Regions from separate parts of the Homo sapiens genome. Here region 2 is linked to region 1. Evidence: fine-mapped expression QTL. A gene starts in region 1. The other region holds a variant in brackets. All regions are shown on one strand. Distances are from middle to middle. Region 1 holds the start of DESI1 (desumoylating isopeptidase 1). Region 2 overlaps MEI1 (meiotic double-stranded break formation protein 1).

Evidence for each region. PIP is the estimated chance that this variant, and not a neighbour inherited with it, causes the effect.
Region 2: its variant is fine-mapped to the expression of DESI1 in whole blood (INTERVAL, PIP above 0.99). The same link has a PIP of 0.9 or more in CD4 T cells and CD8 T cells.

Annotation. Positions count from the first base shown.
Region 1 is chr22:41,619,440-41,622,347 of GRCh38, forward strand. It overlaps DESI1 (desumoylating isopeptidase 1), which reads right to left and starts at 1,604. Exons shown (of 6, transcript NM_015704.3): 1 at 1,313-1,604. The coding sequence starts at 1,400. XRCC6 (X-ray repair cross complementing 6) reads left to right here and starts at 1,856. Exons shown (of 13, transcript NM_001469.5): 1 at 1,856-1,906; 2 at 2,551-2,647. The coding sequence starts at 2,566. RefSeq lists an enhancer at 1,022-1,623 and a silencer at 1,355-1,624.
Region 2 is chr22:41,721,691-41,724,598 of GRCh38, forward strand. MEI1 (meiotic double-stranded break formation protein 1) reads left to right here. Exons shown (of 31, transcript NM_152513.4): 7 at 2,253-2,383. It also overlaps the pseudogene RNU6ATAC22P. Among named protein-coding and RNA genes, the nearest start is that of MEI1, 24 kb to the left of the region's middle. The variant C/T (reference allele first, on the strand shown) is at 1,371.

The DNA of each region.
Region 1 (2,908 bases):
CCTTTCCATAAGCTACTGCTGTTATCAATTTCTTGTGTATCCTTACGGATAATTATTTGCCTAAGCAAGCACATATATATCCTTTGATTTGCATATTTAAAGAGCTATTCTAACCTTGTTTTTTCTAATCTCATTTACAATATATGTTGGAAATGAGGGTATCTGCATTTTTAACAAGCACCCTAGATGATTTTGATGTGAAGCCAAATATAGAAACAACTCATGGACCCACGGTTGTGAGATTAAGTTCAATTCACTACGACATATTAGAAACTCAAGGACATTGAAGGATGCCCTCAAAAGTAGCCTCCCTTACTTGATCTCTGCCCCCTCGTCTCACAGAGATGAACTAAATCATTCGCCAGTGTCTCCACAGAAGCCAGGAAAAACTAGCCATTCAAATGGATGCTGTCAAAGCTTCAATTTTCAATAATTGGAATTCTTTCCTGCTCATTGTTACCCGAAATTACAAACCTGACAATTCCTGTGTTACACAAGACATTCCTGTATTTAAGTTGAAATAAGGTGTGATCGTCACTGAATGAGGGCTGGTTTTTCTCCTGCCAGTTAAGTAGTTTAATGGAGCACAACCGAAATACTTTCTTTACTAATCCTTATTCACACAGCCTCATCCAAACTTCCCCCAAAACTGCTTTCTTGCCATTTGAGCAAAAGCAATTAACTTAGAAACTGTGGGGAGAAGACTGCTTGGTGAATTCTGGAGTTCGGGGCTCCTCTTATCCTGACTTGACCTACCTGGGGGCGATGGCTGGGTCCCTAGGCAGCTCTATCTCCCCCATCCCACCTATCCCTGGGACTGCAAAGGGAGCTTCCTTTTGGCACTGAGACAAGGTTCTCCGAGAGCCACCCGACCTCCGCAGTGTCTCTGTCACCACGAGGGGCACCGCGCGGCAGGCATCCTCACCTTTCCTACACCGCGCCAAGGAGGCAGGAGTGCACTGGGCTACCCGAGCGAGGCAGAGAACCCGCCGGGATCCAGCGCTGGTTTACCCCACACCCTCGTCGAAGGGGCTCTCGAGGGCTCGGTTTCTGCCCAAGCCCCCTGCAAGGTGGAGGCATGACTCCTCCATCCCTTCCCCTTGAATTCAAACGTGAGGATGGTATCTGCGAGGCTAAAGCGGGGCTCAGATGGCCCAAACTTCAGACCACTCTCTTCTCCACTCGGCTTTTCTTCCATCCTCCTGGCCATGTGTCTCCCCGTGAGTCGTGGCCCAAGTCTCCCCACCTCGGCCAGCCGCCACCCTCTGGCCTGGCTCCCGCCCTCCTGCCCACCTGGCCCCTTCCCCCTCACCCAGCATGATGGGGCTGAGCCGCCGGGCCAGGCCTTTGGACAGGTCGTACACGTAGAGCTTCACCGGATAGAGATTCGGCGGCTCCATTGGGACCCGTGGCGACGGCGGCCACGACGGCCCTCGGGCACCCGGCAGCGGCTTGGACCTTCCCGTACCCGACGGGAGTGCGAAGCGGAGGGAGAGGGGGGGACCGAGCCCGGGCCCGGGCTGAGGGGTGGGGGAGAGGCCGCCCTGCGCTGCTCGCGCCCCCACACCCGCTACCGGCAACGACTACTGTGAGGTGACAGAGAGGGGACAGGGAGGGCCCACACGGAAGAGGGGGCGGGGGCAGGGATGCACTTTTGCGCATGTGCTTACAGTCCTGACGTAGGAAGGGGCGGGGCTTTGCCGAAGGGGGCGGGGCTCTCGCTGATGGGTTGGCTTTCGTCAGGGACATAGGTAGAAGCTGGTTGGGGAGTGTGCGTGCCAGCCTGACGCGATATAGTGCGCACATGCGTGATGACGTAGAGGGCGTTGATTGGGACCGAGTACAGGGCCCGCGCATGCGTGGATTGTCGTCTTCTGTCCAAGTTGGTCGCTTCCCTGCGCCAAAGGTAAGCGGGCCGTTATCCATTTGTGTTGTTCGCCAGCTAGGCCTGGCCTCGTCCCGCTTCGCTCGGTCGGTCTCGCGCGCCCCCATAGCCTTGCTAGAGGGTTAGCGTTAGCCTTAAGTGTGCGAATCCGAGGAGCAGCGACAGACTCGAGACCACGCTCCTTCCTCGGGAAGGAGGCGGCACCTCGCGTTTGAGGCCCGCCTGCGTTTGAGGCCCGCCTGCGCTTGCGGCCCGCCTGCGCTTGAGGCCTGTCTGCGTTTGAGATCTCATTGGGCGTGATTGAGGAATTTGGGGAGGTTTTTGGGCGGTATTGAGGACGAGGGGGTCCGTTAGTCAGCATAGAATCCTGGAGCGGGAATCCCTCACCGTCTAAATGGCGTCGGGGGCGGGACCTCCGGGATCTGGCTTCCGCGGGCCGCCGCCGGCCCTGAAACGTGAGGGATAGCTGAGATGAGGCAGCTACTGGGATGGCCCCCATGCGCATTTACATGCAGTCCGACTGCCGAGCTTTCGAGGCAGCAGGATTTACCGTCCACATTCCTCACTACTAACCAAGCTTTTAGAACAGATCTCACAAGAACCTAGAGGTCGGTATTTTTTCGATTTAAATTTGCCTGTTACTGACGTTAACGTCTTTCGCCTAGTGAGCAGTAGCCAACATGTCAGGGTGGGAGTCATATTACAAAACCGAGGGCGATGAAGAAGCAGAGGAAGAACAAGAAGAGAACCTTGAAGCAAGTGGTAAGTGACTTCAGCATGTAGTGCCATTCGGTGTGTGGAAGAAAGACCTTCCCTGCCTATCTCTGCTGGATGGACTTTGCTGTTTGATGGCCTGCCCTTCTCCTCCCAGATAATTCTGAAATTCTTTTCTTCCTTTGAACTTCGCAGAGCTACCCTAGGCTCTTATATGCAGATCTTACTCTAGTGTGCCCTAAGTTTTTTTTGGACACTGGTAGTTTGACATCTTTTGGTCCCTGATAAATGGCCATGACCATAGGTATT
Region 2 (2,908 bases), 100 kb after region 1:
CCAGAATTCCCGTTTTTAAATGCTACCCCTTTTTTTTTTTTTTTTTTTTGAGATGGAGTCTCGCTCTTTCACCATGCTGGAGTGCAGTCGCACGATCTCAGCTCACTGCAACCTCTGCCTCCCGGGTTCAAGTGATTCTCCTGCCACAGCCTCCCGAGTAGCTGGGACTACAGGCGCGTGCTACCATGCCCGACTAATTTTTGTATTTTTAGTAGAGACGGGGTTTCACCGTGTTGGCCAGGATGGTGTCAATCTCTTGACCTCGTGATCTGCCTGCCTCGGCCTCCCAAAGTGTTGGGATTACAGGCGTGAGCCACCGCGGCCAGCCTCTTTTTTTTTTTTTTTAAATAATAAAAAAAATTAACCCTATGCATGTTTGTCAGACCCGAGGGCCTCTTTTATCCTGGTCAACGGGAGTGCTAACCTTCTTTCAGACAACACTTAAAGGTCACCTCTTCTCTGGAGCCTTTCCTTCCCACCCTCTCCCCTCAGCCAGGGATGTAGTCACATCCTTTGGACCCTTGAAGCACCAAGGGTCTTATATTCTGTCTTATGTCATCTTATTCACTTACTTTACAACCCAAGATCCTCATAAGTTCTTATTTTATTTAATTTACTTATTTTTAAAGATGGGACCTGTTCTATTGCCCAGGCTGAAGTACAGTAGCATGTTCATAGCTCACTGCAGCCTCGAACTCCTGGCCTCAAGTGATCCTCTCACCTTGATCTCCCAAGTAGCTGGTATTACAGGTGCACGCCACCTTGCCAGCATTTTAATTTTTTTTTTTTTTTTTTTTTGTAGAGATGGGGTCCCACTATGCTCATAAGCTGTTTATGGTCTAATCCTTATTAACCTCTCAAGCCTCATCTCTCACTTCTCTATCTGTCCCCACCCTAACTCAGCCTTACTGAACCAAATCCATCTCCAGGAACACACCATACTCTCCTGCCTTTATATATTCCTCTGCCCAGAAGTTGGCTCACATCCAACTTCTCATCCTTCAAGATTTGGTTCAAATATCTTCTTATAGAAGCCTTCCCTGGGCCCCCAGGCTAGATTAGATGATTCATTTGATTTCCTGCGGTCCTCTGGGCTTTTTTCCACATTATTTAATTTTAATATTTAATATTCTGACATGCATTTCTTTACTTGTTTGTTAAAGTATGTATTATTTGGAACACTTTGGTGACTTACCATGAATCCCAGCATAAGTACCAGAATCCTTAACATAGCTTATGTGGTCTTTTGTGACTACTTCTCAAATGTAATTTCTGGACTTTTTTTTCCCCCAGCCATTCTGGCTTTCTTTCACTTTCTAGAATGTTGTTCTCTGTATCTGGAATACTTCTCCCCACTTCACCTACTTTTA[C/T]GTACTTATTTTTCAGATTCAGCTTAAATGGTACTTGCTGATGGAAGGCTTTACTGATCCCCCACACTGGGTTAAATCCTCATATACATTTTCATGTATTTGGGTATTTCTCATTTACATCATTTATCACAATTATAAGGGTCATTTGTCTGACTTGGTTTTTTTTTTTTGAGATGGAGTTTCACTCTGTCACCCAGGGTGGAGTACAGTGACGCCATCTCAGTTCACTGCAACCTGTGTCTGCTGGGTTCAAGCGATTCTCCTGCCTCAACCTCCTGAGTAGTTGGGACTACAGGCACATGCCTCCATGCCAGGCTACTTTTTGTATTTTTTTACTAGAGAGGGGGTTTCACCATGTTGGCCAGGCTGGTCTTGAACTCCTGACCTCAAGTGATACACCCACCTTGGCCTCCCAAAGTGCTGGGATTACAGGTGTGAGCCACCACGCCTGGTCTTGTCTTACTTGTTTTTGTGTTTGTTTCTCCTACAGGAGTGTATGCTCCCTTTGTTAGTCAAAAAATATTTTTTGAGTTCCTGCTATGTGTCAGGAACTGTGCCAGGTGATGGATGATGTTATGTTGAAAAAACTCACATTATTCCTGCCCTCATGAAACTTATAGTTGAGTGAGGCAGTCGGGCTATGTTTATCTTGCTTACTCTTGAATCCCTAGACCCTTAGGCCTAGCACTTAGTGGGCTCTCACTAGATCTGTGTGGAAGAGAGTCGGGTGCAAAAAGCAAATTGGTGCTTAAGGATTCTAACCATTCTTCATATTTGTAGAGGGATGAAGAAGTTTCTCTGGGGATGTCTGAGGGGCTATCTTGGGAGTACTCTGGTGCCTGTGTTCCTCTTGCCTTACTTCCCAATCCCTTTGTTTCCTAGGTTTGCTGAGGCAGCTGTTGAAGTATGATCTCTTTGTGTCCATGATCATGAACCAGGATGGACTGGGAGAAAGTGCTAAGAATATCGAAGGGTCATCAGGAAATACCTCACTGCCTTTGGTGCTCAAAAAGGTAGTTGTCTTGTGATTCCTGGTCTCTAGGTTCAATAACAAGGGGACCCAAGTGCTTCTTGGGCCTTGTCTTCATCTACCACTCCTATCTCAGATTTCCAAGTGTTTTCTTACTGGGCAAAATAATATACTGGCTGGGGGCGGTGGCTCATGTCTGTAGTCCCAGCACTTTCGGAGGCCTAGGTTGGTGGATTGCTTGAGCCCAGGAGTGCAAGACCAGCTTGGGCAATATGGCAAAACCCTGTCTCTATAAAAAATACAAAAAAGTTGGGCGTGGTGGCTCACGCCTGTAATCCCAGCGTTTTGGGAGGCCAAGGCTGGCGGATCATGAGGTCAAGAGATTGAGACCATCCTGGCCAGCACAGTGAAACCCCATCTCTACTAAAAATACAAACATTAGCTGGGCGTGGTGGCACACACCTGTAGTCCCAGCTACTCGGGATGCTGAGGCAGGAGAATGCCTTGAATCTGGGAGGCGGAGGTTGCAGTGAGCCAAGACCGCGCCACTGCACTCCAGCCTGGTGAC